2 linked regions of the Homo sapiens genome follow. The protein of the gene in region 1 purifies or fractionates together with the protein of each later gene. This does not show direct contact. Each region holds a gene or a part of one and is shown on either strand. Other genes may lie near its edges.

Region 1 (5,731 bases):
GTCCCCTTCCTCTGTCTTGAAACCAGCAACTGTCTGACCCTTTTGCTGTGGTCACCTTTCTCTCTCTGGCCACTCCGCTAGGACAGGTTCCCGGGTTTTCATGTAAGGTTTCCTGTAATAAGATTGGGACCACTTGTGTAATCCAGGATATTGCCATGTAAAATAACATATTCATAGATTAGGATTAGGGCATGAACATTGTTGTGAGGCCATTATTACTCTTAGCCAGCATCCAGGTAAGAACGGCTAGAATATACCCAGAATATTTTACTATGTCTCACTTCAATCAAGCACTTGAAAATTGTAGGAAAAAACCAGAACGGAGAGGAGGAGGTCTGGAGTTATACCAATCTCAAGGCGTTTAAAGGAAGAGAGTGTTTGGCTTAGAAAAATATAGCTTAGACCTCTATATAGGGGTAGGGAAGGAGTGTGATTGATGAGGCGTGGGTGATGGCTATCTTTAAAATATCAGAAGGTTCTGTCACAGACAGAGGATTGAAACTTGTGCTTCACAATCTCAAAGGACAGAATAGAATAAATATCTGGAAACTCCTAGGATGCAGCTTTTGGCAGAAAATCAGGCAGAGCTATTATGGCTGTTACTGATGTCCTTAAATGCCACAGGCTGGAAATGTCATAGCTTGATGGTGTGGGAAGTCTTATAAAAAATATTTAAGCATTAGATGAGGGATTAGCTCAGATGACCCCTTAACTTAAATCTAATCCTTAATGATTGTGTAACATTCTATATGGCTTAGAATTCTATTCATGTTTTTTTTTGTTTGTTTGTTTTTTGTTTTTTTTGAGAGTTTTGCTCTTGTTGCCCAGGCTGGAGTGCAATGGCACGATCTCGGCTCACTGCAACCTCAACCTCCCGGGTTCAAGCGTTTCTTCTGTCTCAGCCTCCTGAGTAGCTGGGATTACAGGGGCCCGCCACCATGCCCAGCTAATTTTTTGTATTTTTAGTAGACATGGGGTTTCACCATGTTGGCTAGGCTCCTGGTCTCCACCCGCCTCGGCCTCCCAAAGTGCTGGGATTACAGGTGTGAGCCACCGCGCCTGGCCTTATTCATAGCTTTTGAATACCTCTGATTGCATATAGCTACATCCTAACAGGGCCCTTCATCTTTATTGAGAATCTTTTTGTTCTCACAGAATCCATTGTAAGGATCTATCCCATGCCACAAAAAAGAAGGCGTGAAGAAAGCTGGTAGAGTTGAGATGCCCCCTTGGAAGATTAAGTATTCCAGATTATTGTTGAGAATATAAAAACAATAACCAAAGGAACGGTGCAAGATTTTAAATGCACACAAATACTTAGAAAAATACTCTCCTCTGGCATATCAGACAGAAAAACAAAACAAACAAATAAGCTGTAAAGAGTTAAGCCTTGAAGAAAGTGTAGATTCATTGCTATTAGGTGGTCTGTGTGAGTATTAAGTATGATTCATATTTTGAGGAAGTGAGATATTTTAAAATGAAGGAAAAAGAAGTCGATCAGGTTATTTCATCTTAATTCAGGAAATAATACATTTTTGAGACTTTTTTCATCAGTCCACTTTGGGGATGATTATTTGGAATAACTTGTATAAGACTCATGAGGCTGCTGCAGAAAGTGTTGTTTTTATGTCACTAGTGTATGCTGCATAAAAGCTCTTCTTTATACTTTCAACAATTATGTTACCATGAACATTCTTGACCTTTTAAGTATACCTCTGAATGTTTAGATTATAAACGTGAACTGTACTGTGTTATGTTAGACTATTTGACCAAAAACGTATTTTCTACCACAAAAAAAGTCCAAAAGGAATTAAGTTAATTACAACTTCAATTGTGTTCAAGATCGGTCTTTGTGGTTCTTTATATCTGTGATTTATATATCTTCAAAGAGAGTCTTAAGTGTCTTTGGGATTGTAATGGGCATTCTAGACTAAGAGGAGCTTGTTCAGACACAAGATTTGGGGCCAATGCTTTCAATGACTTCATAACCATTCCATCTTCTTTCTACTTCTGTGGATTACCCAACAGCAATAATGATAATCTGAGCCAGTTCCTGATACTTCTCTCTATAGTCAAGAGAAGGTCAGCTATTTTTTGATCCCCATGGGAGAAAGACAGCTCCTCAATCACTATCTTAAAATAGCCAGCAATTCTCAGCTGCTGGGCTGGAGTTCCTCCAGGGGCGAGCAAAGGGAATATGAATCTGCCGGTGGGGCGTGAGCGAGAAGCCACCAAAACATGAGCTAGGACAGCCTTCTCAAGAAGATTCTGCCAACTCAAAAATATTATTCTTTTTTTTTTTTTTTTGCTGTTGTTTCTGAGAAACTAGGTGTCTTACCATTTTAAAATTTCATATTTTATTTAAAAGGAAACCAGTGAATTGAAAATGAGACTAAATATCGCTATCTTCTTTGGAGCTCTCTTTGGTGCTTTGGGGGTGTTACTCTTTTTGGTGGCTTTTGGATCGGATTATTGGCTTCTTGCAACTGAAGTGGGGAGATGTTCAGGTGAAAAGAATGTGAGTCTCTTCTTCAAAATAGTGATGCACATGGTAGTTATGAAGATACCCTTATGTATGCTCTTGAAATCAGAGAATAGTAGTGGAGTGTCTATTTCTTCATGGAAGAGATATGTAGAAAGCTACTGAGCTTCATTATTTGGGATAAAATACATGTCCTTAAAAATTTACTGGCTGTAATGATTTTGATTATATTTCTTGTATTGATGGCAAGTTACTTCATTTTGTTCTGTGCAGATAGAGAACGTCACTTTTCACCATGAAGGGTTCTTCTGGAGGTGTTGGTTTAATGGGATTGTGGAAGAGAATGACTCCAATATTTGGAAGTTCTGGTACAGTAAGTACAATTTAGCTTTATTTTCCCTCTTGTCTGTAAAATAAAAATGAACAGTTTCTTACATAGTATATGTCACTTCTAGCGGACTGGATTGTGAGTTACAAAATCTCAATTAGATGTCTTTAAAAGGTTCATCATGTAGAGATTCCTTTTCAGTAAGTAGACATGGCTATAGGAATAATTATTTTATCTTTTAGCATAAAACAGGAGTCTGAATATTTATGGCAAAACTGAATTATCCATTGTTTCACTGCTCCTGTTTAGAATACACTAACTCTAACAAACAGGACAGGTATTGTCTATAGCATTTTTTCAAGTGTGTGAATACTATGTTGCAAATAAATAAGATTTTTTTGCTATCAGCCCTTGAAATCTCAAATGTAAAAATCCATAAATAGAGATGTATTATTTTATATTCATAACTTCAAAGTTAACAGTATATTTTTTTTAAAAAAATCATGGAACTTAATTACCAGCCATGGCAGATGAAAGCTTATATTATTTGAGCTTTAACCAAGTTTGTTGGCACTATCAAGAAGTGCCTTGCTTTTGATGTTTGTGTTCTCATTGAAACTTTAAAGTTCTTTTTTAAGGTAGCATAACTTTTAAAAACTATAATGCATTTGTTCAACTCTATTCTTTATATTGAATTAATCTTTGAAAATCAATTTATTGAAAATAGCTAGCGCTTATTTCATTGTATTCAACAATGAAAGGGCTGTTTATTAGCCTAAAGCTTATTGAGAATTGAAATTATTAGTCTTCTTATCAAAAATCAAAGTATGGTATTTACATAATAGTCAGGATTATGGAATATTTAATAAAAATAGGAGGTCCCTGAAGACTTAAGCAAGCTGGTGATAAGTTGGCATATATAAGGAACAAAGTAGTGATGAAGCAGCGTTTTGAGGCAAGTACCTGATAGACTATCTTACAGTGGATTTGGGGGCAGGAGAATAAGCATACAACTTGCCAGTGGAAATGGTTTAGACTTTAGTAAAGGGAAGTAAGTCAGACTGTGCAAGAGGAAGATTTTGCCAAAGACTTGGAGAAAGAAAGAATATTTCAATATTTCAGTCCACCTTAAAGTGTACATATAAAAATTTTAAGTTCTCAGACAACATAAAAGTGCCTTCTTGTGATGTTTTCAAATATTAAAAATTTATTTGAATTATTGTATAACTTATCATTTGCATTCTTCCCTAAAATAAAATGGATATAGAAGAATTTTTTTATTAATTTGAACTAATCAAGGTTAAACTTAAGTTTATTAGATTTTTAAAACAATTATTTTTTATTCCCTACTGTGTGCTAGACACTGTTGGGTACTGGAGAGTATGTGAAAAAAGATGAAATGTGGTACCTTAAATCGTAAGGTGATATAAAGGGCATTTGCATTTATTCCATTGAATTATGTCATGTAGCTAGATGTTCTGGATGAATCCACCTTCGTCTCATGTGCATCTTGATATGAGTTTCCTAGAAGGCCTTCCTCCTCACAACAATTCGCTGAATTTGCTGATGGAACCAGTAGTTTTGTTTTGCTTGTGTAACCCTTGTGCTCTGTATTTCTGTTCCATTAAGGATGAGTCATGACTGAGCTTTTCAATAACAAGTGCCATTGTTTTGCTGTTCTTCCTAGCCAATCAGCCACCGTCCAAGAACTGCACACATGCTTACCTGTCTCCGTACCCCTTCATGAGAGGCGAGCACAACTCGACCTCCTATGACTCTGCAGTTAGTAAGTACCCTCTGTCCTCAGCCTACTTCTAAAAGGGTCTTATCTTTCTGAAGGATGCCCAGATCAAAATTGTTGTGAGCAATTAAAAAAATAATTTAAGACCTGTAATTTCAATATTTTTGATATCTGTTAGATTAAAAAATGTTATTTTTAATGTGCCATTTATAATTTTAAAGAACATAACTTTGATCTAAAAGTAAAGTCATTGTAATTTACTAGCTGCCTATAAAAGTATTTTTAAATGTGTTTTCCCATATGAAGATAGTAATATTTATTAAGAAGAACCGCTTCTTAAGGTTTTAACAGACCTAAAACGAGTCCTACAGTTGAGAATATTGTAATATACATCATACTTCTAAAACTTTATGTCATCATTACACATGAGAATATCACAGATAAATATATAATATGTATACAATAAATATATATGATATAAATATGTAATTATGCTACTATATTTATACAAAATGACTGAACTCTGTGTGTGTAATATCCCATAGGAGACAGACAGACAGATATCATTAACTTAAAATCACATTAAGAACATGAAATTTGTAATAACTTGCTAAGGGTTGATACAGACTATCAATGTCATATATAGAACAAAAAAGTGTTTTTCAAAAATAGTAGCTATTATATTTAATGTTCTCAATAAATTAATATTAGTCAGGGTTCTCCAGAAAAAAGAGAAACAATAGAACACATAAATATATATTATATACACACATACATGTATATACATATGCATGTGCACATACACATACACACATAGAGAGTGAGAGAGAGTGATTGTAAGGCCTGGTGAGTCTGAAATCTACAGGGCAATTGGCAGGCTGGAGATTCAGGTCAGAGCTGATGTTGCAATCTCCAGTCTGAAGGCTGGACACTCCAGTAGAATTTTTCTTCTGCAATCTGGAAGCTGACTTTCTTTTTCCTCAGGACACCTGTTTTTTCTCTTTAAATCTTCAACTGATTGGATGAGGCCCGCTCATAGTATGGGGTAGGGGGTAATCTGCTCTACTCAAAGTCAAGGGATTATAAAAGCTAATTGCATCTAAAAATACCTTCACAGCAATATTAAGCTGGTATTTGACCCAACAACTTGGCACCATAATCCAACCTAGTGGATATATAA
Region 2 (4,283 bases), on another chromosome or scaffold:
TGGAGAGCTCTCAGTGCCCATGGATCCACCTACGGACGTAGGCAGATGACCTCCATCTTCACTTCCTCATGGATGCTAACACCAGATGTGCACTCCCCACAAAAACTGGTGTTTCCCAAATGGAACTCATTGTTTCAAACTAGCATAGTGAAAAGCACATGAAATCATCTGGGTTCAAGTTACATCTGAGTGACTCACTGACATCCATATAACCTTGAGCATATTACTTCACATCTCTTTCTGACCCTCTTTGCATCTGTAAAGTGACTAATCAACCATGGAGGGTCGTTTTGAGGATGAAAGGAGGTTTTATGTAAAGCACCCAGCACGTCGGTAGGTGTCTGATGAATGTTAGTTTCCTTCCTATCTTCTGTCTCCTAAGCTAGTCCTTCATTGTTGCCTCACACCTAGGTTTGCTGCTGCTGACTGTAGGTGCTCCTTTTTACTGTTGACTTTGTCTTTCAAATCTGGTTCAAATCAAACTTACACCTCCCTTGCCGAGAATCACGAACTGGCTCCCTGTTTCCTACCTGAAGGAAGTGAGACACTCCCACTAGACTTTCAAAGCCCTCCCTTTTCTTACTCATCCTCCATCCACTATATTCTTACTGTAACCTTATTTTAAAAGATGACACCATTCCACCATGCTCCCACTTCACTGTTCCATAAGCTAGCCACCTGTGTTATCAGCACCACACCAGCCTGGAAGAGCCAGGACCCCAGCGCTGGCTGTCATACGTCACTCCCACAGGCTCTCCTGGTCTAGTGTAGGCACTTAATAAATGCTTGTTGAGTGAAATTTCTCCTCAGATGTTTAGGAACTTGTGCTGAAGAATTTTAGGACAAAATTTCAGAAAATGACCAATTAATACCATGCATATTGTTTTTTCTCCCCTTGTATAAAAATTGTGCTCAGTTTCGAAGACTTGGAAAAGGAGATAAGGGAAAAATATCTACAATTCCACCATTTATAGATGCATTTTATTATCATTTTTAATGATAAAGGCATTTAACCCATTAGATGGTTACTTTGCATTGAGGAGCTAGTATGTGCTAGTGCGGCTATATGTGCACTTTCTTATACATTCTCATTTAATATGAACTTTCAAAAGTAATATGAAATTATATATATTTCAAATTTTTGTACAAAAAATACAGGAATTAGCCAGGCATGGTGGTGCAGGTCTGTAGTCCTAGCTACTTGGGAGGCTGAGGTAGGAGGAGTACTTGAGCCTGGTAGATCAAGGCTGCAGTGAGCTGTGATTGGACCACTGCACTCCAGCCTGGGTGACAGGGTGAGACCCTGTCTCGGGGTGGGGGTGGGATGAAGAAAAGAAAGAAACTGTGAGCTTAGTAGTAATGCCATAACTCTACTTTTGTTGCTTAGATTGGTTTATCTTGGAAGCTAAAGGGCATTGCTCATCCTGAAGATCAGCTGACCATTGACAATCAGCCATGTCATCCAGGCCTCTTGAAAGTCCACCTCCTTACAGGCCTGATGAATTGTAAGTAAATAATTCTTTAGTTATTCTCTTTTAAAAAGTCTATCACATGTAAACAATAAGTATGGTTGAAACTTTAAGTGTTTGCTTTTAAAAATAAAACGATATGTGTACTTGTAAATTTAAATTGTATCAAAGGGTCTGCACTGAAAACTGAATTTCTCTCAACTTTCAGAATGACAGTTTGTCTCTGCTAGGACAACTGCTGTCACCTATTCCTAATGTTTGTTTCAAGAGATTGCCAAGGTTTATATTTGTATGTTCCTTTTTGTTTTGTACAAATGATAATGAAGCTTCCATTTAAATGCCTCATTTAGGTGGCCATTGGGAACATATTGTCAGTTTTTAAAAATAACAGCTTTAGGCCGGGTGCGGTGGCTCACGCCTGTAATCCCAGCACCTTGGGAGGCCGAGGCTGGCGGATCACAAGGTCAAGAGATCGAGACCATCCTGGCCAACATGGTGAACTCCCGTCTCTACTAAAAATACAAAAATTAGCTGGCTGTGGTGGCGCGCACCTCTAATCCCAGCTACTTGCCTGTAATCCCAGCTACTTGGGAGGCTGAGGCAGGAGATTCACTTGAACCCAGGAGGTGGAGGTTGCAGTGAGCCGAGATCACGCCACTGCACTCCAGCCTAGAGACAGAGCGAGACTCCGTCTGAAAAAAAGAAAAAAGGCCAGGCCTGGTGGCTCATGCCTGTAATCCCAGCACTTTGGGAGGCCGAGGCGGGTGGATCACCTGAGGTCGGGAGTTTAAGACCATCCTGACCAACGTGGAGAAACCCCCATCTCTACTGAAAATACAAAATTAGCCGGGCATGGTGATGCATGCCTATAATTGCAGCTATTTGGGAGGCTGAGACAGGAGAATCGCTTGAACCCAGGAGGCGGAGGTTGAGGTGAGCTGAGATGGCGCCATTGCACTCTAGACTGGGTGACAAGAGCAAAACTCCGTCTCAAAAAATAAATAAATAAATAAAAATAACAGCTTTATTGAGATATAATTAACATACTTTACAATTTACCCATTTAGAATGGATAGTTTAATGGTTTTTAGTATATTCACAGAGTTGTAGAACCATCACCACAATTAATTTTAGAACATTTCATTACTCTCCAAAGAAACCTATCCATTGGCAGTCACCTCCCAGTTCCATCAGCCCTAAGCAACTATTGGTCTACTTTCTGTCTCTATAGATTTGTCTATTCTGCATATTTTGTATAAATGGAGAAATCACGTAATATGTGGCCTTTTGTAACTGGCTTCTTTCACTTAGCATAATACTTTCCATACTGTCAGTTTTAAGAGTGATTCCTGCCATGATCTAAAACAAGCAGTGTTGAGGGGTTTTGGGCTCCTTGGTCATGTGAAGACTTATCAGTGAATTTTTGAATTCCAAATTTGCTATCAAACATTGATAGGGATTTCCTCCTCTAAGTAGTTTGCAGCTTTAACCATGATAAGTGTAGTGGAGTGTGATATAGGCAAAAACAAACAGTTTCTCCTGCTGTTCTGTCACAACACATCTGTGACCTCTGATCACCAGAATTTGTGGGGATATTTCCCCACCAGCAACCAAGTAATCAGTTCTACAGTGGACAATAGCTGTGTGTCCTCTAATTATCAGTTCAATTCTGACACTGTCAGAGATAGCATCAGATCACAGGTTCAGGGCTCATTCCCACAAGACTGCCCCCACTTCACGTAGCAGCCACAAGCTCAGGTTGTGGCCTGTGTTTCTGACCCACCTACAGTAAATCAGGATTCCCACAGTTGTCTCCTTGGGTGCAATTAATTTGCTAAAGTGGCTTGCAGAACTCAGGGAAACAGTACTTACCATTACTGGTTTATTATAAAGGGTATTACAAAAGCCAGGTGTGGTGGTGCATGCCTGTTATCCCAGCTACTCAGAAGGCTGAGGCAGGAGGATTGCTTGAGCCCAGGAGTTTGAGGCCAGCCTGGGCAACATAGGGAAACCCTGTCTTTTAAGAATGAATGAATGAATGAACAAACAAATGATATTACAATGGATGCCAACAAACACCAGATGAAGAGGTGGACAGGGCGAGGTATGTGGGAAGCAGCCCTCCCTGGTTGTGCCACCCTCCAGGAACTTGCACATGTTCAGCTGTCCAGAAGTTCTGTGAATTCGGTCCTTTTGGGTTTTTATGGAAGCTTTATGACATAGGCATGATTGACTAAATCATTGGCCATTGGTGAGCAGTTTAAGCTTCAGCCCCTCTTTCCTGTCCAGAGAGGGTTGGGGCTGAAAAGTTCCAACCCTCTAATCCTAGCTCCCATCCTGAAGCTTCCTAGGGCTGCCAGGAACCTATCATCTCATTAGCATATAAGGGATACTTATCACTTTGGAGAGTCCAAAGATTTTAGGAGTTGTATGCCAGAAAATGGAGATGAAGACTAAATACATATTTTACAATATCACGTGAAGGTTGTGTTCCAGTTCTTTAACCTCCTTACTAGTGCCTAAAACATGGTGGGGACACAAGTTGTTTATGACAATACAGTTTTTAAAACATACTAGAGAATATAGTAATTGAGTAATGCACCACTAATCTGACACTTATTTTGTGTTGCTTTTGTAAATAATGGTGAACTGCAACATACATAAAGAAAAGGACACAGAACATATGTAGGAGATCATGAGGAAAGACCAAGCAAACATACATACTCATCACCCAGGTCAAGAAACAGAACACTTCAAAGTCCTTCCCTGTGTCCTCTCCTTTTCTCTGGAGACCACTGTCCTGACGTATGATCA

The links.
Region 2: the proteins of TMEM182 (region 1) and OCLN purify together in Homo sapiens (affinity purification with mass spectrometry; one large-scale study listed by BioGRID and IntAct). This does not show direct contact.

What each region holds. Positions count from the first base shown.
Region 1 is NC_000002.12:102,759,832-102,765,562, forward strand, and holds the start of TMEM182 (transmembrane protein 182 isoform a precursor), read left to right. Parts: upstream 1-2,199; 5' UTR 2,200-2,386; coding exon 2,387-2,518; intron 2,519-2,755; coding exon 2,756-2,855; intron 2,856-4,497; coding exon 4,498-4,596; intron 4,597-5,731. UniProt on the Homo sapiens protein: Negatively regulates myogenesis and skeletal muscle regeneration via its association with ITGB1. Modulates ITGB1 activation by decreasing ITGB1-LAMB1 interaction and inhibiting ITGB1-mediated intracellular signaling during myogenesis.
Region 2 is NC_000005.10:69,502,790-69,507,072, forward strand, and holds part of OCLN (occludin), read left to right. Parts: intron 1-1,387; 5' UTR 1,388-1,455; coding exon 1,456-1,505; intron 1,506-4,283. UniProt on the Homo sapiens protein: May play a role in the formation and regulation of the tight junction (TJ) paracellular permeability barrier.